3 linked regions of the Homo sapiens genome follow. The protein of the gene in region 3 purifies or fractionates together with the protein of the main gene of each other region. This does not show direct contact. Each region holds a gene or a part of one and is shown on either strand. Other genes may lie near its edges. The genes, in order: SNTB2, UTRN and DTNB.

What was found.
Region 1: the proteins of DTNB (region 3) and SNTB2 purify together in Homo sapiens (affinity purification with mass spectrometry; 2 studies listed by BioGRID and IntAct, with this or other methods). This does not show direct contact.
Region 2: the proteins of DTNB (region 3) and UTRN purify together in Homo sapiens (affinity purification with mass spectrometry; 3 studies listed by BioGRID and IntAct, with this or other methods). This does not show direct contact.

The regions. Positions count from the first base shown.
Region 1 is NC_000016.10:69,182,872-69,190,233, reverse strand, and holds the start of SNTB2 (beta-2-syntrophin), read right to left. Parts: upstream 3,071-7,362; 5' UTR 3,068-3,070; coding exon 2,488-3,067; intron 1-2,487. UniProt on the Homo sapiens protein: Adapter protein that binds to and probably organizes the subcellular localization of a variety of membrane proteins. May link various receptors to the actin cytoskeleton and the dystrophin glycoprotein complex.
Region 2 is NC_000006.12:144,280,385-144,288,429, reverse strand, and holds the start of UTRN (utrophin), read right to left. Parts: upstream 3,096-8,045; 5' UTR 2,609-3,095; intron 1,933-2,608; exon of another isoform or gene 1,760-1,932; coding exon of another isoform or gene 1,151-1,759; exon of another isoform or gene 476-1,150; intron 1-475. Other genes in the region: uncharacterized protein LOC124901418, read right to left, coding at 1,151-1,759.
Region 3 is NC_000002.12:25,383,537-25,390,638, reverse strand, and holds part of DTNB (dystrobrevin beta), read left to right. Parts: intron 1-2,277; coding exon 2,278-2,437; intron 2,438-3,260; coding exon 3,261-3,350; intron 3,351-3,487; coding exon of another isoform or gene 3,488-3,540; exon of another isoform or gene 3,541-4,277; intron 4,278-4,526; coding exon of another isoform or gene 4,527-4,576; exon of another isoform or gene 4,577-4,612; intron 4,613-5,428; exon of another isoform or gene 5,429-5,573; intron 5,574-6,749; coding exon 6,750-6,803; intron 6,804-7,102.

The sequences.
Region 1 (7,362 bases), on a different chromosome or scaffold from region 3:
GTTTTCAGACATCTAATGGAAGGACAACATGGTACAGCCTGAAAACTTTAAAGACTAAACTTAAAATCTGTCTTTTAAAAGTGGCCTACCTGGATGGGACACCAGCTCTCAATTTTAAATAATGTTTGACTGGTTCAATTAAATCATTGTTTTCAGTGGTTTTACATATTTTGAGTAATTTTATTTTTACACCCAGTGGCTTGAAAATGCAATGTCGTAAATCTACTATATTGACTTCCTCACTACTTATAAGAACAAAAACTGCTTGTCTTGTACAAAGTGGGAAAATAAAGTAGAACCTGCATGTTAGGTAAAAAGGCATTCAATAAACATGTTATTATGCGGCCATCTTTCTAAAAGCACACGTGGCCTATTTTAGCCCAATAAAGACTGGGAAGCATTTACTGCAAGGTTTTCATTTTACTGGTCTGAATACTAGGTTCAAACTATACCTATACAAAAAGTAGGTTGGTTGTTTGTTTTTGAGATGGAGTCTTGCTCTGTCATCCAGGCTGGGCATCCATGCTGGAGTGCAGTGGTGAGATCTTGGCTCACTGCAGCCTCCACCTCTGAGGTTCAAACGATTCCCCTGCCTCAGCCTCCCTAGGAGCTGGGATTACAGGCATCTGCCACCACGCCTGGCTAATTTTCGTATTTTTAGTAGAGACGAGGTTTCGTCATGTTCTCCTGACCTCAGGTGATCTGCCCACCTTGGCCTCCCAAAGTGCTGGGATTATAGGCATGAGCCACCACGCCTGGCCAAAAGGTTTTTTGTGTTTTTTTTCTAAATATGGTGTACAAGGTTCAACTGTCTGCCCATCACAACTGAGGACTACATAAATAGTACTAAATTCAATATTCTGGATGTAAGAATTTATAACCAAATGCTTAGCTAGACCAACTTCAAGGTACACGTTTAGAGTAACAGTTTTTTTTGGACACACACCCAAACCACAATCTATAATTTTACTCCTTCTATTAACACTAATTTCCGAGCAATGTCTAGCCCCACCTAGACATGCAATATAAATAAGGTTTATAAATAGGATATTATAAAGGTGGGACACTGGAACTTCACAACTGGTGTACATGAAATCATTTCTGGTAAATCAGTATTTTTCCAAATATTCACAAGCTGATTTATAAGAAAGTGAAAATCCATTGTGCCAAGTTGGACTTCTGGCCTCTCGGTTTGACGATTGGTCCTTCTTCACCAGCAGCCCCCAGCCCTTCCCTTCTGTCCTTCCTCTGCCAGGAATACCCTCCTGACTCATCCCTGCCTGCCTATGTCCATCACTTCTTGGAGACCTGGCTCAAGATTCAGCTTCGGGAAAAAGTCCTCCCTGGCTAATTCCATCTCCACTAACTATTTTCTAACTTTGCATTCCTTTGGCATTTAAGTATAGTTTCACGACGTAATCACCAACTTCATTCCTTTCCTCCCTATAAGTTGTTTTGCATTTTTCTATCATTTCTCCAACTAGAGACCAAGTAGGGACAGCATCTTCTTTTATATTCTTTTCAACACAGCTAGCCATAATCACCAGTGAAAGAAAGCTGACCGCTCAAAAATTTCTGAAGAAAGCAGCTGACTTTTCGTTTATAATTTACAATACTCTATCACCTCCAACATGCATGAGTCCTTAGAGGAGAGGAATTTTATTTTTGCCTTAGTTCAAATTCATCATGAAAGATCCAACTTACAGATCACATACATATAACTTAACGTAAAGAATAATCCTGGTTATTGAAACCTATCTTGTGATTTGCCATTTCAAGTTTCTTACAAAAACCCCAAGAGTCTTGAAGCAGCGCGCCTGTGAGTGGTAGGAAGCTGGCAGCAGACTTGCAAAAGGGGCAAAACTCTAGTTGGCAGTAAATGTTCAAACACGTGAGCCTCCACTGTTAAACAAGGTTCGTTAACCACACAGACTTGCTGTTTCAGCTTTCTGGCTTCAATGAAATGCTATGATCTCCTTTGGTTATTGTTGAGAGCCAATGATGGGTTAAATTCCCATAAATTAACCAGCGCTTTGGTGGTTTGCCCGAGCATACCGCTGGCATCGGTGAAGATGGACTTTTTTTTTTTTTTAATAGACCCGCCCGCCCCGAGGAGCCAGAGGTGAGTGAGTTAAGCGCCAACCCGGCACTTCTCAGCGGGCAAACGGAGACAGACCCACTCGAGCCGTTCGCTCTCCCTCAAGTTCTTAGTGTCAGCTTATCGGGCCGAGGTGGGGCTTCATAGGCAGCTGCTTTTTACTCAATCTCAGCCGAGTCTTCCCTAGGGGCTGCAAGCCACACTTCGGCGGCTGCCCAACTTTTCCTGCAAGAAGCATCCGTTTTTCCACACTGAAAGCTCCAGAAACCCGGGTTTGGAGAGAGACGGGGAGAGAACCGGCTCGCCCCGCCGGCGGGGCAGGAACAAAGTGAGCTCCCGCGAGCCCAGGCCGCCGCGGCCTGCCCACCCTCCCGCCCGGCCCCGCTCACCCTCCAGCAGCACCTCCTTGCCCGCGCGCTTCAGCGCCTGCACGGCCTGGTCGTGGGTGGCCTGGCGCAGGTCGGTGCCGTTCACCGACAGGATGGCGTCGCCCAGCCGCAGCGCCCGGCTCTGGTCGGCAGCCAGCCCGGGGAAGATCTTGGAGATGAGGATCGGCATCCGGTTCTCGCGGCCGCCCTTGATGCTGATGCCCAGGCCGCCCGCCTCTTGCTTCACCACCCGCACCCGGCGCACGGGCGGCGACGCGCCCGCCTCACCCGCGGGGCCCCGAGGCGGCGCCGGCGGGCTCGGGGGCCCCAGGCCGCGGCTTGGGCTCCCGGGCAGCGAGTCGCCCGCGCCGCCGCCGTTTGGGAGGCCGTTGAAGGCGGCGGCCGCGGGTCCCAGAGCGGGCTCCAGCTCGGCCGCGGCGGCGTCGCCCGTCAGGCTCAGGCTCTCCCCGCTCAGCTCGGCCACCACTCGGACCCAGCGCTCCCTCAGGAGCAGCTCCACCAGCCCCGCTTTGGTGGCCCGCGTCCACACCGCCATGGCCGGCCCCGCTCCAGCCGCCGCAGTCGCCGCAGCTACCCTCATTCCAGTCAGGCAGCCTCGGCGCTTCCCTCTTCCCGCCCGGAGGGGCGGGCCCGGCCCCTCCCCCGCACGATTCATTATTCATGAGGCCACGCCTGCCTCTGGAGGGGCGGGGCCGGCGCAGCCGCTTCCGGGAGGTGCAGAAGTTGTCCGATCACTCGCCTCTCGCCGGACGTGGGCAACCCGAATGCGGTGGGACTGCATTTCTCCTCATCCTTCCATTGGCTCCCCACGGACCCCCCAGAAACTCCTGACCTCTACCGTGCAATTCACGGGAGCTGCCCGGGCACGGAAAGCAAAATCAGCTTGGAGAAACACTTCTCAAGCCTGCAAGACCCGGTGGCACGTTCATTCTTGCATTGATTGGTTCGTACCCTGTGTACTGAGCGCTTAGCCCTGTACTCCGGCTCCTTTTGAGGCCCTGTACTTAAGCTCAATAGTACCAACAACAGCTGAGAGTTTGCGGTCTAGTGGGGAAGGAAAATGCAGAACCAACCAACTAGGTGTGATACTATGTGGTTAAGTGACATGCAGAAGACGTCCCCAGAACAGCATAAAAGGAACATTTGGTTAGGCCTGGGGTCAGCTTCACAGAGGTAACAACGGACGGTGAACAGCTCAAGCAAAGGTCCAACAGCATGATCCAAGCCTTTGTCAATGTTTTGTAATCTCGTTTACTTGCCTGTAATTCAAGAGGGAACCATGTCTTCTTAAACCCTGAAGCCACAATTGGCAGGCCTCAAGGATATTTGCAGAATGATGGTGTCTTAGGGTTCTTCAGAGAAACCAACCAATAGGATATATAGAGATATATAAATTTATTATTATTACAAGGGACTGGCCACGAGATTATGGATGCTGAGAAGTCCCACGATCTGCCATCTGCAAACTGCAGGCCCAGGAAAGTTGGTGGTGCACTTCCAATCCAAGCCCAAAGGCCTGAGACCCAGAATCAGTGGTATAAACCTGAGATTGAAAGTCTGGGCCGGGCGCGGTGGCTCAAGCCTTTAATCCCAGCACTTTGAGAGGCTGAGGTGGGCGGATCACCTGAGGTCACGAGTTTGAGACAAGCCTGACCAACATGGAGAAACCCCATCTCTACTAAAAATACAAAAAATTAGCCGGGCGTGGTGGCACATGCCTGTAATCCCAGCTACTTGGGAGGCTGAGGCAGGAGAATTGCTTGAACCTGGGAGGCAGAGATTGCGGTGAGCTGAGATGGCACCATTGCACTCCAGCCTGGGCAACAAGAGCAAAACTCTGCCTCAAAAAAAAAAAAAAAAAAAGAAAGAAAGAAAGAAAGAAAAAGAAAGTCTGGGCCGGGTGCAGTGGCTTACACCTGTAATCCCAGCACTTTGGGAGGCCAAGGCGGTGGATCACCTGGGGTCAAGAGTTATAGACCAGTCTGGCCAACATGGTGAAACCCCGTCTCTACTAAAAATACAAAAAATTAGCCAGGTGTGGTGGCAGGCGCCTGCAATCCCAGCTACTCAGGAGGCTGAGGCAGGAGAATCGCTTGAATCCGGGAGGCAGAGGTTGCAGTGAGCCAAGATTGCACCACTGCACTCCAGCCTGGGCAACAAGAGCAAAACTCCATCTCCAAAAAAAAAAAAAAAGTCTGAGCCACACGCGGTGACTCACGCTTGTAATCCCAGCACTTTGGGAGACCGAGGCAGGCAGATCACTTGAGGTCAGGAGTTCGAGTCCAGCCTGGCCAATGTGGTGAAACCCCCGTCTCTACTAAGAATACAAACATTAGCCAGGCATGGTGGTGGGCCCTTATAATTCCAGCTACTCGGGAGGCTGAGGCAGAATTGCTTGAACCCAGGAGGTGGAGGTTGCAGTGAGCTGAGATCGCACCAGTGTACTCCAGCCCGGGTGACAAAGCAAGACCCTGTCTCAAAACAGAAAGTCTGAGAAGGGGGTGAGGGTGGGAGTTGGGGTGGGGGGACAATGATGTAAGTCACCATCCCACTGCCAAGGCCCGAGAGCCAGGTTCACCAAAGTCTGAGGGCAGGAGAAGATGGATGTCCCAGCTCAGGCAGAGAATGAATTCCCCCTACCTCTGCCCTTTGTTTTGCTCAGGCCCTCAACTGACTGGATGCTGCCTGCCCACATTGGTGAGGGTGATCTTCTTTAGAGTCTACCGTGGAAATGCTAATCTCTTCCTGAAACACCCACACAGGTATACCCAGAGGTTATGTTTTACTAGTTACCTGGGGATCCCTTAGCCCAGTCAAGTTGACACAAAATTAACATCATAGATGGTTACTTAGGAAGATGCTAGAATTCCAATGTGAACAGAGCATAGGGTCAGTGGAAATGGGAGGATATGAGTGTGAAAAGCATCTTTTTTTTTTTTCTGAGACAAGAGTTTCACTCTTTTTGCCCAGGCTGGAGTGCAATGGCGCGATCTCGGCTCACTGCAACCTCTGCCTCCCAGGTTCAAACGATTCTCCTGCCTCAGACTCCCGAGTAGCTGGGATTATAGGCATGTGCCACCACGCCTGGCTAATTTTGTATTTTTTAGTAGAGACAAGGTTTCTCCATGTTGGCCAGGCTGGTCTTGAACTCCCGACCTCAGGTGATCTGCACGCCTCGGCCTCCCAAAGTGCTGGGATTACAGGCATGAGCCACCACGCCCAGCTGAAAAGCATAACAAAATATCGAGGAGTTTGAACTTGACTTTATAGATCTTTTTTTTTTTTTTTTTTTGAGATGGAGTCTCATTCTGTCACCCAGGCTGGAGTGCAGTGGCTTGATTTCAGCTCACTGCAACCTCCACCTCCTAGTTTCAAGCAATTCTCCTGCCTCAGCCTCCCGAGTAGCTGGGATTACAGGCGCGTGCCATCACACCAGCTAATTTTTGTATTTTAGTAAAGGTGGGGTTTCACCATGTTGGTCAGGCTGTTCTTGAACTCCTGACCTCATGATCCACCCGCCTCGGCCTCCCAAAGTGCTGGGATTACAGGCGTGAGCCACCGTGCCTGGCCGCAGATCTGACTTTCTTAGCCTGGAGGCCATGGCCTTTTGTTGGGGCAAGTGTACGTGGGCATTCCCAAAAATTGTATGCAAAATTTGGTCTCTAAGGTATTTTTTTGAAGCCTGTGATTCATCCAATTGGCAGGAAGTTTCCCTGACCAAAGGCCATGAGCCACTGCTGTGCACATTGCAGAGCCTGCAGTGGCTTTTATTCAGACATGAATGATACAACCCACCCACCTCCTCCAGCTTCATGGACTAGAAGAGCTAAGAAAACTGAGGGCCAGAGAGCCAAAGACCAAAGACCATGGCCCAAAGTCCATAGGAAGGAGGCAGAGACAACTCAGGACTACCAGCCTCTGGATCCAGGGTTATTTTCACTATACAGTACCCTTCAGACCTCAAAAATAAGGGTCCAAGCTGGGCACAGTGGCTCATGCCTATAATCCCAAAACTTTGGGAGGGTGAGGCAAGCAGATCATTTGAGGTCAGGAGTTCAAGACCAGCCTGACCAACATGGTGAAACCCCATCTCTACTAAAAATACAAAAAAAAAAAAAAAAAAAAATTAGCCAGGTGTGGTGGTACACACCCCTATCTCAGCTACTCAGGAGAATGAGGCACAAGAATCTCTTGAACCCAGGAGGCAAAGGTTGCAGTGAGCCGAGATCGCACCGCTGCACTACAGCCTGGGCGACAGAGCAAGAGTTTGTCTCAAAAAAAAAAAAAATTAAAAAAATAAAAAATAAACTAAGGGTCCAGAAAGCACACTGTTAAGAAAGCAAGTGCTCAGCAAAATCATGAGGTCAAGGTGTCCTCTAACTTTTCTTCAGCAGTAGTAGCAAAAAATCCCTGTGTTTTCATGTGGGCAGGGACAGGGGCAAGCAGAGGGAATGTGCACCAATTCCTGTAAAAGGGGCTGTAAACTTGCTTGCTCATGAAGTGCACGTTGAGGCTCGTAAACCGTGGCCGTGCACCACTCTGTGAATGCATGTTCATGTGCAGGCAGAAACTTCTGAAGAGCCTCCTGTAACAGAAGTTAAAATAATAAATGTAGAGGCTGGGAAGTGTCCAGAGCCCAAATGAAGAAAGAATTCAAAATGAGAAAAGTATCTTACCAAAAAAAAAATCATTACAGCAGAATCCTCTTTGCGATTAGTGGAGTCGGATTTTCCAAGCTGCAAATGTCAGCAAAAGCTCAACCCTCCAGCCCTCTCCTAAATCAACTGCAGAGGCCAGCTTGCTGTTCCAGCAGGTCCCAATGTGCCCAAGTGCACCTGCGGTCACAGACGTTCTGGCTCTGCTCCAGCTGAGGCG
Region 2 (8,045 bases), on a different chromosome or scaffold from region 3:
TTTCTTCACTATTGGTCTTAGCCAAGATCTCCACTTCTATGCTACCCAAAGCCTTTATTCACCCATAAAAGAGAAAAGTCAACTGTTTACACACTACTTTATTCCATTTGCCCATTATCAGTAACACTTCTTCACTATAATGTTTCACTTGCCACTCTCCTCAAGGTGATTTTTCAAATTTTTCTCTTCTTGATAATGAAAATCCCTTACAGGTTGCAAAGATACAGCAGAAAAGGTGATCAGAGTACAGAGGAAAATGGGGAGAAAGAAGAATAACAGAAGGCTATTTAAATAGTGATAGCCACTGAGGTTACTTGCCATTAATGGCCAGAGGAATTTGAGTACACTTAAGGCAAAGGATGACTCCTTCTAATTGCCAAATGCAGAATCTTTGGTTCTCAGGAGACAGAATCAAAGTTTCACCACGAACAATGCATCCCAGTGTGACCCTCCGTCTTCCACACCTATAAAATGGAGGGAACACCATCTTCACAGAAGGCTAGGTGAGAAACTGAGAATCAATGAATGAGATGTTGCTTTAGAAGCTTCAAGCCCTATACAAATGCAATTTATTGTTACCTCTGCCCTAGATTTCCCTTCCCTCAAATGATATTCTGTAAAAGCCAGATGTTCTTACTGAAACCAATCCAGTCAAGTCGATATTCACTAACTCTCCCTTCAGAACGCTTCCGGCTGTCATATGGACCACCAAGCAAGAGTGTATGAAATAAACATAAGGTGTTTAAAAAATAAACATAAGGTGACAGCCTTAAAGACAAAACTAATGTTTCAATTTTTTAAGATTTTAGGAATTATACAATGAATATATGTATATAATTTTTATTTTGTACTATATTTTATGTATATAGCACATATATATCCAACAGTGTGCATTATGATGGAAATGCTGTGTAATGCAAACACTATTCATTAATTTACTATAGGAACCAAAACCTAGGAACGATTGAGATAGTAGAAAAGGAAGCCAAGCGGACAAGAGTTTGCTGCTCTGCTTGAAACACAGTAAAAGAAAACGGTGAGTGCCAAGAACTGCCATTTACACTCGGAAGCGCTCCAGGGAAGGTTAATACTACTGTGATTAATACTGTTTACAGAGCCAATAAATTTTAGGTAAACACCCAAAGGAGAGTTAAAGAGTTGTCTCATCGGTCCCATAAAGGCTGGTAAAAGGGGCGGGGAATGGTTCCACGCCAACCCTGTCCGTCACCGCAGAACTACCCACAAGCTTCGCATTCCTCCACCTCTCCCCTGACCCTGAGCTATCCGCAGGCTGCGTCTCCCACGCCCACCGCCAACGAACCGGGAGGGCCCAGATCGACTTCCTGAGGCCGGTGCAACTTACAAAGGAATGGATGCGGTCGCTGCCGCCCGGCCGGGCGGCCGGGAGGGTCGGCTCAGACCTAGGGAATCCGGCCTCCCCCGAGCTCCGCGCGCTCTGGCCGCGGCGACCGCTGCACTGACCCTCCCAACCGCGGCAGGGGGAACTGGCCCGCAAGGCCCTGGTGATCCGGCTGACCTGAAGGCTGGGAAAGAGGAGGCCCTGTCCTGAACACCTCAGAGAGCGGGGCCGTGGAGTTAGAACCCGAGCTCTGCAGTTCCTTGTAAAATAAAGTGCTGGTCCCACAGCTCTCTCGGAGGTCGGGCAACGTTTTCTCCCTCCTCCTCGAAAAACGCACTGGAATGAGTCCCTTTCATAATCTGAGGCTTGGAGGAAAAAATCCTTTGAACAACCTGCCATCTGAAAGTTGCACAGCCTTCAATTGGTGCTTTGTTGGTTTTTAAGTGGCCTTGAGCAACCACAGCCTCGGACCCCGGGCCAAAGCGGGGCATGAATTACCTTGTCAGTTGCAGCAAGAGATCCCCAGAGTCCGGAAAAGGAGAGCCGGCGACTGCGCGGGACTACACACCAATGGGGCGCCCCCCTCCTCCTGTCCCCTCAGTCTCTCCAGGGCCGCTGCCAGGGAGCTTGGCGATCGCGCCACACTCTCCGGAGCCCCACCCTTGGGAGCAGCAACCACCCAGAGGTCAAGCACGTTCCCCGCCGGGCGGCTGGCTGGGAAGCGCTCCGCTGGCCGCCGACCACACAGCCACCCTCTGCCCACCCTCTCCTGTGGACACCGCCGGAGCCCCGCCTTCCCCGGGCCCGGGTGTCTGTGACAGACTCTCCTAAGAGGCCACGTCCCCTCTTGCAAATCACTGGCCCAGCGCCCTGCACCGCGCGATGCACGGAGGGCGACTCTGTCACCCCGGCGGGGAGGAAGATTAGGGGAGCAGGGAGGCAGCACAGAGCTGGTCAGATAAGTTTGGATCGTTCACAACTAGTACGGATCCCAAGGACCTCCACGCCCGAGCTCTCCACGCCTCCGGCATTCTCTCTCGCACCGCGGGGAGCTAAACTGAGGCCCCGAGGAAAGGGCACGCAAAAGTTACTCCCATCTTCGACTCTGGGACTTGGGAAGCAGCTCGGGACGCCGATCCCAGGCGGAAGAACCACAGAAAGAGCCATCCTCCTCCCGGCCCCCGCCCCATTCCCTCGGGGGCTGTAGTCACATTACCAGCCCGAGGCTTCAATAATGCATGGGCTTACCTGCTGCCCGCGGGCCTCCTCGCCTGCCGGTCGCCACCGCCGCACCCCGAGCTGGCCAAGGGCTCCTCTAGGAGTTTGACACGGAGTAACCGCGGGGGTGTGTGCGAGTGTTAGTTTGGTGGTGCGATGTATTTAAAAAAAAAAATAAAGCTTGGAGAAGCAGACACGAACCGAAATTTTAAAAAAAGAAAGAAAGAAAGAGAAATTGACACCCGACTGAAAACGCCCCTTACTTGTGCAATCTTCCTGCCTGGTAGTTCCGCCAAAAACAAAACAGTCAAAGCGCAAACCTGGAAGGGGCGCGCAGGCACCAACTTTGCCAAACGCTACAGAGTTTTCCGTTTGCAGAAATGACCCAAAAGAAGGGGGGCGCCGCTCCCCGTGATTCCCCAATCGGCTTCTGGAGCCAGAGGCTCCTCCTCGCCCCTCGGCGGGAGAAAGCCCGCGGCCGGCTGCTGCTGCCCGCTTCCCTGCTCCGAGGAAAAACGACTCCACAACTTTGTGCGCGAGAGAGGCTCGCTCCTTCGGCGGCTCCTCCTCCTCCTCCCCGCTGCGGGCCTGCCCCTTTGTTGGAGCCGAGCGCTGGAGGCGGAGGAGGGAGGGTGGGGCGCAGGACCGCTGGGTCGCGCGTTGCCGCCCCCACCCCCCGGGAAGGGGCTCGCCTCCGGGCAGCCAGGGGTCCGCTCTCCAGATGAGAAGGGTGCAGATCAGCGCCAGCCCTCCGGCCCGCGCCTCTGCAGCGCTCCGGCTCCCCCTCGGCGCTCTCGCCCCGCCGCCGCCGGCCCAGCAACTTTGTTCCGGAAGATCAGCCCCACTACGTTCCCGGGTCAGCGTCTGCCGGGCCTCGGCGGTCACCGCGGCCACCGCGTCGGGAACTTGGCGCCCCAAGTCACCTGACTGCGCGCCCCGTCAATCAGCGCCGGCCCTGCGCGCCCTCCCAGCCCGCAGCAGCCCGGCTCGGCGCTTGGCTGGCCTGGGGCGCGCGCTCCAGAGTGAACCGTGCGTGCCGGGAGCCGGGAGTCCGGAGACCGAACCAGAATGGATGCCTCGAGCAGACACAATTCCCCTTATTCAGATTATCCGAAAATGTGAGTCACGTCCCCTTAGGCAAAACAGGTCTCTAGTTAGGGTGATATTTTTTTAAGAGATAAATTCCAATCTGCCTTCCAACTCACCCCATCTCAGTTTGCTGACGTTGCTGATTTTTTTTTTACCCCTAGTTCCAACCGTATATTTATTTTACATTATTTCTCTAGTGTCGTTGTTAATATTGAAAAAGAAGTTTTCTCTTACATTAGTTTGTATTACAAGTAGTGTTTGCGCTGACCTTATTTTTCTGTTTTCCAATATGCACACACAAACGCACATCTGTTATAGAGCCTGTTCCAAGCTTGAGAGGTTGACCAAAAAATATCTGGGAAGAAATGAGCTCGTGATGTGTGTGCATTTTTCTTATTTACACATTTCATTGCTCGTGTGTTCCTGTGATTCTTTTACACGATCAGCACACGTGGGAGGGGAAAGAAAACAGCAACCTGAGTTCCTAGTTCGTATTAACAGAGAAAAGGATGGTTGATACTGGAGCGCCGGTTTATTGCTGGCTTAATATTTGAGTTAATTTACGCGGCAGTAAAGATTAAACCACTAGGGGCCTTAAACTAATTTTCAGAAAGAGTTTACTCGCCTTTTGTTATAGTGAAAGTTTCCCCCATCCATCCCTAAGTGCTCCAGGGAGGGGGCAGGTAGGAGATTCCCAAAAGAGACTCTTCCTTGTAAGGTTTCTAGGACAGTTTCCTTCCTTTTGATGATTTTCTACGTATAAGCCAAATAAAATCCAAAGGATTAACTTGAAATGGGTATGATTTTATTCATTCACTTCATTCATTCATTTAACAAGCATCAGTTTAGGGCTGTCAGGTTTGCTGGTTCTGTGGGTAAAGCAAAGATAAATCTGATAGTGATCTTACCCTTAAAGAACTTGGAATGTAGTAGGTGAGATAAGACATGTAAACAAGTAAGTATATACAAGATCCGGGAGATAAATGCCATAAGAAAAGAACAGATCAAGTGCTAGCTGAGTATGGTCACATAGAGGGACTCCAGGATTTTTTCTTTCTTTCTTTCTTTCTTTTTTTTTTTTTTTTGACAGTGTCTCTCTCAGTTGCCCAGGCTGCAGTGCAGTGGCGCGATCTCGCTCACTGCAAGCTCCGCCTCCTGGGTTCACGCCATTCTCCTGCCTCAGCCTCCCTAGTAGCTGGGACTACAGGCGCCCACCACCACGCCCTGCTAATTTTTTGTATTTTTAGTAGAGACGGGGCCTCCCAAAGTGCTGGGATTACAGGCATGAGCCACCGTGCCCAGCCCCCAGGTTTTTTTTAACTGATCATTTTGCAGACACCAAAAGTTGCTTATCACTCACTGTATCCTGGTTGAGTTGATGAAACTCAGATTTTCTCCTTCAAAATAGATAATAAGGCCACATTGGAGTGTTTGATGATGTTGTCACTTAAATTAATATTTGTGACACTTTTCACAATTTACAAAGTAATACATCATTTTAGCTCAAAAATTTTGAAAAACGCACGTTTAGGGTCCTATGATTTCTGGGATTGTAAGCTGTGAGGAGATGTTTAGTCGAGCTTCCTCAACGCCTGTAAGAGATGGAACAGGAGGCCAACAAGCCACCTTCTGTGCAGGAGTGACCTGCCCCGCATATCAGCCATAGTGGCTTACAGCCAGTTACCTGGGGACCTGTGCCCTATCTGTTTCTAGCCCTTCTCTCCAGGCAGAGACTGATGCTCTTTGTAGGTAATGAGCAAAAGAGGCTAAAGAAATTCTTGTTGACTGGGTGCAGTGGCTCACACCTGTGATCCCAGCACTTTGGGAGGTCGAGACAGGTGGATCATCTGAGGTCAGGAGTTCGAGATCAGCCTGGCCAACATGGAGAAACTCTGTCTCTACTAAAAATACAAAAATTAGCTGGGCGTGGTGGCACATGCCTATAATCCCAGCTACTCAGGAGGCTGAGGCATGAGAATCGCTTAAACCCCGGGGCAGACGTTGCAGTGAGCCAAGATGGCGCTACTACACTCCAGCCTGGGTGACAGAGCAAGACTGTCAGAAAGAAAGAAAGAGAGAAAGAGAGAAATAAAGGAGGGAGGGAGGGAAGGAAGAGGAAGGGAGGGAGGGAGGGCGGAATTCTTGTTGATGGAACGATCAAGAGATCTCAAGCTGGTCCTGTGCTGGTCCTGTCCCCCAACACTTTCTTTATTTGGTAGGGAAACCACATTTGGTGGGCGATCTTGACCACAGAGGGCTATATTTCCATAAAGCACAGTGTGATCTTCCTTTATATCCAGAGAATCTAGGTGAGGCACGGTGGAGACAGGCCTCTAAGGTAATGGGCCTGCAACAAGGATGCTCAGTGGGGTTTTGTCTGCTCATCCCAAAGATCAGATCGCTGTAGAACATCTGGAGAGAATAATAGGAATGTGGCCCTGGGTCTACTGGTAACCCAAAGTCAGAATTGCCCTGCTGTCACCACAGAACTGTGAAAATTAAGGAAAATGGAGTTAGTGTCACTGCAGGATAGAAAGCCTTTGACAAAGGAGAAAATTATGATATGAGTAGTGTATATATAGATTCATATATAAAGATATATGTATATGTGTGTATAGTGTATATAGACATGATTCACATAAATATTATTCCCATACAGGGAACTGCATCCTAATATAAGAACCAAAAGGAAAACATTTGCTACTAAACTTTGTGCAAGACTATATAAATGCAGTTTTTCTTTAAACAGTAGAAACAGGGGAAAATACACAATGTATAAAAAAACAAGACACTCCTTTAGCTTTACCTTTGGTATTGACTATAATTAAAGCCCCACATACAAGCATTTAAGAGAGGAGGAAAGTTTAGGGAATTTAGCCTTTCTTATATTTTTCAGGTAAAAAAAGTATAAATCTGGAGCTTGTGTGTAATAGATACTGGATTTTTGCTGAGTATTGTTGGTAAATTCTTCAGTCAAACGTCTAGTATGTGTGCGAGTTGATAAAATTTTATCATATAAATTTTTGTAATAGAATTGAAGAAACAAAAAATAATAGCACATGAAACTTTTAGAAAATAAATAGTACAAAGGCTGAGTTCCTTACAACTTAATGCACTCAAGAATTACCCAGAGAATATATTTTAAATTCAGATTGATTGCCATTCCCCAGAAATTCTGATTGACTAGGCCTGGTGGGGCCCAGGAAGCTGCAGGTTTAACATGCCTTAGCTTTAGATCAGAATAGCTGAGGAGCCACACTTTGAGCCCCTGTGCCCTGGGGTGCTGGCCTTAAATAGGCCACTTTGGATGATTGGAGGGGTCAAGAAATTGCCCTACCAAAAAAAAATCCATACTGAATCAATCATAATTATGAAATACCCGTGATTAGCTTTATCTCTTTGAATTCAAGTGTTTCATTCGATTCGGACCACCCTGGAGGTTACCTACAATTGGTAAAACCCTAGGACTATTCCTGGCAATTTAACCTGCACAGGTGGTAGGAAGCATGGCCCAGTTCTGAGGAAATGAGGCTCTGAAGAGAAAGTTTAATGATGAGAGGACAAGGAGGACAGGAATATTGAGAATACAGGAGCTGAAATGTGGAATCCAAAGAAGCTAAGGGCAAAATAAAAGCACTAAGTTGTTGGGCAGAGAAGAGCAACTGATTGATCAAAATGGGAGAATAAAGGAAGCGCCAAAAAGAGAAGGAAGAGACGCAGAGAGGGTGGAGGATGGGAAACCCAGAGCACCACCTTCGGGGAAAACTGAACAAAACACAGTCTACGCTGAGTTTATCCTACTTATAAATTTTTCTTGGCTTAATTTAATTTGTATAATTTTATAATGTTGTTGCTGAAAAAGATTTTACAGAGTCTTTCCATCAACCCTCTGAATTTTTTTTTTTTTTTTTTTTTTTTTTTTTTTTTGAGGCAGAGTCTCGCTCTGTCTCCCAGGCTGGAGTGCAGTGGCGTGGTCTCGGCTCACTTCAAGCTCTGCCTCCCGGGTTCACACCATTCTCCTGCCTCAGCCTCCCGAGTAGCTGGGACTACAGGCGCCCACCACCATGCCCGGCTAATTTTTTGTATTTTTAATAGAGATGGGGTTTCACCTTGTTAGCCAGGATGGTCTCGATCTCCTGACCTCGTGATCCGCCCGCCTCAGCCTCCCAAAGTGCTGGTATTACAGGCGTGAGCCACTGCCCCCGGCCAACCCTCTGATTTTACAAAGAAGCAAATGAAAGATACAAAGCTGATCAGGGAATACCTTTAGGTAAAATAAAACAATCTATTGGGGGAAAGTGTCCAAATTACTGAGAAGTGAAAAGAGAAGATCCCTATGTTACATGAGTTCATTGTTAACCAGAAGAAGAGGGGAGAA
Region 3 (7,102 bases):
CCCATCTCTACTAAAAATATAAGAAAAGCCAGGCATGGTGGCACACACGCACCTGTAATCCCATCTACTTTGGAGGCTGAGGCAGGAGAATTGGTTGAACCCAGGGGACGGAGGTTGCACTGAGCCAAAATCGCACCACTTCACTCCAGCCTGGGTGAAAGAGTGAAACTCCATCTCAAAAAAAAAAAAGAGAAGACGAAAAGAAAAAGAAAAGAAAAAGTTTAAAATTTCAATGAAAGCCAGTTTATCTGTTTGGTTTTGTTTTTACATATCATGGTTTGGGTGTTTTCTTAGAGAAATTTTATAGTTTTAGCCCTTATAGTTACTATGATCCATTTTAGTTTTAGCTCTTATAGTTACTATGATCCATTTTGATTTAGTTCATATTTATTTGTATCATGGAAAGATCTCAGAAAGCATGCTAAGTGATTAAAGCAAATTGCAAAGTGATATGAGCAGTACAATACCATTCATGCAAAATTTAAAAGCGTGAAATACCATCTATTATTCATAGCTATACATGCACATATAGGTTAAAAGTTTCACAGCAGAATTTTGATAGGGGTTGCCTCTGAAGGGAGGAGAGGAAAGAACTGGAACAGGAAAGAACTGGTGGACAAAAATATTGCAAATTTTTCTGCAATATTTTTAGGTTGAAATACATTTGACACAATATGAAGTTACCAATTTGGGGTGGTTAATTATGTTGTACTTTTTAGTTTTCTGTATTTTTTTTAACTTCTCAAAATACACATACACACACACACACACACACACACACACACACACACAAATGATTCAAAGTAAGAACCACAGAAAACAATCCATTTCTGTTGAGTTTGGTGGCCACACGGTTGAAGCACTGCGGTGGGGTGTCGTGCGTCCAGCCTGTCCACCTGTTCAGGGCCAATTCTGTTTGTATATGGGGTTTCTAGCTGAGAAAGCTAGAAGAAGGATAACTGTCTTCATTTGAATTCACTCTCACACTTTGGCTTCTATTTTTTCCAGTTTTGCTTCCACAGAAAACCCTAGTCCACCTTCCACACTCAGTTCCCGTTGTGCTGAAGAGCTACAGAGCCCACATCTCAGTGAGCGGCCCTTGATTAGTTTTCTCCTTTTATTTATTTTATCCCATTGCTCCAAACTTTCTCCACAACTATACCAGGGCCTCCCAAGGAAAGCTTGGTTTCTGTTTACCATGTGTCCTTTCTCACCTCGTCCCCGCGGGGTGGCCCCGGACAGCCTTGCTGTACATGTGCAGTGCATGTGGCATGACTGGCCCCATGGCCCCGCTTGCAGCCTGCAGCCGAGCTCCGCACATGCTCAGAGCATGCCCTGCAGGAAGTGGGGTCACAACCTGCAGAGTGCACACTGCCACCCTTGGAGTCAAGGGGTTGTTCCCATGCCTCCCACTGGCAAGCTGTGTGGCCTGACACAACGTCTCTTTCCATTCTTCTTCTTCTATAAAATGGACATAAAAATATATACCCTGGCTTGGTATGGTGGCTCACACCTGTAATCCTAGCACTTTGGGAGGCGAAGGCGAGCAGATTGCATGAGCTCAGGAGTTAAAGACCAACCTGGACAACGTGTTGAAACCCCGTATCTACTAAAAATACAAAAAATTAGCCCAGCGTGGTGGCGCACACCTGTAGTCCCAGCTACTCGGGAGGCTGAAGCAGGAGAATCTCTTGAACCTGGGAGGCGGAGGTTACAGTGAGCTGAGATCGTGCCACTGCACTCCACCTGGGCAACAAAGCAAGACTCTGTCTCCAAAAAAGATATATACGTATATAAATATATACATACACACACACACACACACACACACACGTATGTCCTTTCCACTCACAGGTTGCCGGCAGCAGCGGGGGGAGGGGTCCAAATGAGAACATGTACATGAATGTGTTTGCAAACAAAATGAAAGCTGTTTGCATGTTACTTCCTGCCCTGCAAGCCAAGCCCTTCTAGAGCCCTGGCCCAGTCACGCAGCTCACTCTGTCTCCACCACTCTGTGCCAGCCTCTTCTTTCCCTCCCATTCTTGGTCTTGTTCTTAGGATGTTCTCTCTCTCTGCCCTGCACGCCCCCTTCCTTTTTTCCTTTTCTTCCTCTCTCCAGTCTTGGAAGCAGCCTAACTCCTTCCTTTCAAGTATGATCTTGTACCACTGAACTGAGGCCCACTGGCTGGCTCTGGTTGATGGAGAAAAAGTACTTTCTTCCTTCCTCAAAGAGGTCAGGTACTTGAGATAACGTATTTTCTGTCTTTGAATCTCCAGGCTCAGGCCACAGGGTCACCACATACATCGCCCACCCATGGAGGCGGCCGGCCAATGCCCATGCCAGTGCGCTCCACGTCTGCCGGCTCCACCCCCACCCACTGTCCGCAGGACTCGCTGAGCGGAGTCGGGGGAGACGTGCAGGAGGCCTTCGCACAAGGTGAGTTTCTGGAGCAGAGTTCAGCGGGGAGCTGAAGGGATGTGCAAACACGGACAAGATTCCTGCTGAGGTTTTTTCCATTTCTGTTTTGTGCTCTTTGCTTGGAATGATCAGATTTTGACAGACAGTGTAAATAAGTCAGGTGCTGGCCCCTTCTCATGAGACGGGCTGGTCTCCAGCGGGAGGGCTGCAGGCTTCCTATGTGTGCCAAGAACAGGCCTCCTGGGGTTCTCTGCCCTTTTTTCTGGATTATTGGAAGTGCTTTGTCCTTTGGGCTTTGTCTCCTCCAGAGGAATTGGATGGAATAATTCCCTGGCCTAGAAGGGACTGTAACAGGCACTGTAACTGGGACCGTGCTGAAAGCACAGTATGCACGCCATTGTCACAGTCATCGGGGGAGCTGGTGACCAGCAGTATTAAGTAGTTGGGTGGGGATTCAGAGGGAAGTCCTGCTGGGGCTGGAGGTGAGAAGGGGAGGTGGTAGTGGTGGTTGTGGAGAGTACAGCCCCACCCCCACAAGGCTGAGGAAGACCTCGGTGGAATGCTTATTCTGGAACCCAGCTCTGGATTGTGTGGTGGCGGCAAAGCGTGGAGTTGACAGGATGCTGCTCCCTAGGTAGAGAGGGCAGAGGGAGAGGGACCAGTGGGCTGGTGCCTCCTGCCCCCGGTGTGCCTGGGAATGGGTGGAGCTGCTGTGGCCCCATCTCCCCTTAGGTGTTCCACACCTGTGTTCTCGGGCCTGGCAGAACTGAGGCATTTGCTCAGCCGTCTCTTCTCCACGCTCACCCACCCTGGCATCCCCATCTGCTCTGCCTCTCCTCAGGTACGAGGAGAAACCTCCGCAATGACCTGCTGGTGGCAGCTGACTCCATCACCAACACCATGTCATCCCTGGTGAAGGAGCTCCATTCAGGTGAAACCCAGAGCTCCCAGCCAGCTTCCTGGCCTCCCCTGCCTTGCCCGCGCCCTTCTCACTTCCTTGCCAGCACCGGCAGAACCTCACCACCCAGCTTGCACCACCCCATTTCATCACCTAACTTTGCCTTCTAGGAACACACTGGATGTCTCCACCCAGAGAGCCTCTGTCACACAGGATCGCGTAGGGGCGGTTTCACATTCAGGCCTATCTCAGGAGTGCATCTTGTGGAGCAAGCTGAATGTAGAGAAATTCAGACCTTTCAGTGCAGGCAGGCCCCTTCCTCACTTACCTCGTCTTCCATCTGTACTTTGTCCACAGCCGCTCTCTCCCTAGGCCTGACCGACCACCTCATTCTGAAACTTCCCTGGAGGTCTGGAGCGGAATCAGCCAGGAAAGCTCTGGACCTTCCCCTGCTGCCTTTCTGCTCTCTCCTGTTTGATTTGTTTTTGAAACCTATTCCCTCCTTTTGTCCGTGACCAGGCTCTGATTTCACCTGAAGTTCATGACCTGAGTCTGTCGCCTCTTCTGCTCCTTGTGTTCAGCTCATCTGTGACTTCTTTCTCAGTCTCTCCATCACCTCACCAATTCAGTGACTTCCCAAAGACCTTTACCTCGTGGCATTTCACCTTACATAAAACCCAGGAAAGAGAGAGAAAATAAAAGGCCATTCACGTATCCTCCTATCTCCAGGAATCCCCATGACTCTACCAGTTACGTAGGGGCCAGAGAGTCACTAACGATTTCACAGCGGTGGGGTCTCCATGTTTTGTGTTAAACTAATGGTTTCCCTCCCTAAGCGCTGTAGGTCACTCACACTGATGGCTCTCTTTTGTTTCTTTCCACCTAATGTAGTGCTTTTAAATACCTTGAAGTAGCTTAACAGGATTATTAAATAAAAAGATAAAGCAGTTTTTCCACGGACGATTCAAACACATACACTTATTCAAACACTCTTAGGGAAGGCAAGCCTTGGGTATTTTTCAGCCCTTCGTAGGAGAAAGCTCACATGTTTAGGGTTGTCATGGGACTGGACAGAGCCCCCAGCTCTGCTCTCAAGTCTGCCTGTTTTCATACAGACCAAAGTGAGTGTATAGCCCAGCTTCGTCTTTCCAGTCAGTTAAGGTCAGACGCTGCCTCTCTTGTTTGATGGTGCCACCCTCTCCATTCTAGCACTGTTTCTCAACCCCCATCAGAAGCACGGCCCCGCTCTGTACACATAAACAGAAGAGGCGACAGCCTTCAGGATGACCTCACAGGTGATTAGAAGGCGCTTTCCCTAATGCAGCTCCCCACAGATGTCAGAAATCCCACTTTTAGAGGAAATTTCTCAGGGAATTTCGGGCCATGGGAATTAACTACACTTGTACTTCATGGCCACTTATTAGAGTTTATGCAAAATAAGTGGCTTCTGCGTTCATCGTGCTAGGGTGAGAGGTCATTAAATACCATTAAGTGGAAAGCACATAGAGACCAAATAGCTTCACAAAAATGTAAAGCTTATAGGAATCCTCAGCAGTGTCTCATAGTAAGAAAGGATGGTTTCAACAAAATTATGTAGTGTAATTTGGAAGGTGCCTTAGAGAGCACATTGTCCAGTCCCTTACTTTAGAGATGTAGCCTGTGCTTATCAGAAAAGTGGTCTGCCTAAGGTCGTGCAGCTTGAAGGGGGAAAGCTGGTCCTAGAACCTGGGTCTTCAGAGCATCAAGCCAGAGATCTTACTCCCCTCCAGGACAAGATAGCAAACCCAGAGTCCCAGAGGCCCCTTTCCCTGATGCTGTCCTCTCAGTCACTGAAGCCTGTAGGTAGACGTGGACCAAAGCCACACATGGCACGGTATCCCTCTAACATGCAGACATAAACTCCCTTTACATGTGAGGGTGCCAATTTCTCAGTGAATGGAATAGCTTCACCCATCACCAACATGTTTTTACTGTCTCCTTGACAGTGACTTGACAGGTTTTTGTTCCAATGAGAGGACATACTCAGATTATCTTTACATATATTCTATACAGTGTATACATACTGTATATACATAGCTTGTAGTCCTCATCTTTATAAAGTTTTTTCACAGATAATCGAATCCTAGAATTGGAAAGGATCGAGGCCACAGGCACAGTGGCTCACACCTGTAATCCCAGCACTTTGGGAGGCTGAGGCAGGTGGATCACCTAAGGTCAGGAGTTTAAGACCAGCCTGACCAACATGATGAAACCCCGTCTCTACTAAAAATACAAAATTAGCCTGGCATGGTGGTGCATGTCTGTAATCCCAGCTACTCGGGAGGCTGAGGCAGGAGAATCGCTTGAACCTGGGATGCAGAGATTGCAGTGAGCCAAGATCGCGCCGCTGTAGTCCAGCCTGGGCAATGAGCAAAACTCCATCTCAAAAAAAAAAAAAGAAAAGAAAAGAAAAAAATTGTAAAGGATGTTAGAAGTCATTTAATCCAACTCGCCACCCAATAAAACAGTCCTCTGAATATTTCCAGCGAGCTCATTCATGATCAACTCTAATCACTGGAAACTTCTTCCTCAGTGGGGAGCCAAAATCTCACTTTCTGTAACTGATTTATCCCTGTCCTCTCAAGCTACCCAGGATAAGCTCAGTCCCTCCTCTGCAGGCTCGCCTTTCACGGGTTGGATGGCAAATGACAACCCTTCCTAGTTTTCTCCTCTGTAGACTGCTACACCCAATTCCTTCAACCTTTCCAAACGTGACATGGTTTTCTCTTACCAGCCTGCTTGACCATACCAGGATGTGGCCATTTTCCAAGGCTCCTATTCAAAGTACATGCCCAGGGCCCAGCACCCTGCTCTCCATCACAGGGGATCTTGTCCCTGCAGAGCACAAGGCATCTGTGACCCTCTTGAGTGTCCCCTGGAAAAGCACCTTAGACGGCATTAGCACTTCCCACATAGCCACTTTGCACTGTGCGGTCATTTTAAGTTTATCATCAGCTAAAACATACGGAATTTTTTTTTTTTAACAGAACCCCGTGTTAATCTAGGTATTCCCCCACCATATATTGTATGGTCACTTTCTTAAACCTGAATGCAAGACATTAGATGTCTCCCTGGTCATCACCACCTGAGGGCAGACAGGCATAGAACAGAGGCACGCAACCCCACACTGCACGCCCCCAGCCCTGGTCAGGAAAGTGAGCGATGTGACCGCACTGCTCCCTTTGGGCTGTGGTCTTACGGGCTCCTATTCAGCAGTGCTGGGGCGTGGGCCGCACAAGTGCAGACTGGTGAGCTGAAGCACCCTCAGAGGCCTGCAGCCAGGAGCTGTTAGCTAGAGTTTCCTCCCAAGCCTCAGCAGTTGCTTTGTTCACCCTCCTTCTGTACTTGTCCTGTGCCGAAGGGTCACTGGCCTCCTTGGACTTGTTTTCACAGCAGAGGAAGGTGCAGAGGAAGAAGAAGAGAAGATGCAGAATGGGAAAGACAGAGGTAAAGGCAGCTCAGCAGGACTGCTCGTTTAAATGGGGAGCCCGAGCTCATGGATCAGCCGCCCCCCACTTTGTTTCTGCATTCCTCCCTGCCACCACCTTTCCCAGAGCTTTCGGACCCGAGGTCCCTGTACCTACTTTTCCCATCTGACAGTCAGGTTTTACCTTCCAGGTGACAAGGTCAGTCGATCACCAAGAGCTTCCTCATTTCCTGATCCTGGGATAGGTAGTTGGGATACAGGAAGTAGATACAAGTAGAACACAAAAGATGACCCTTTGACTGGAGAAGTTTATGATCTA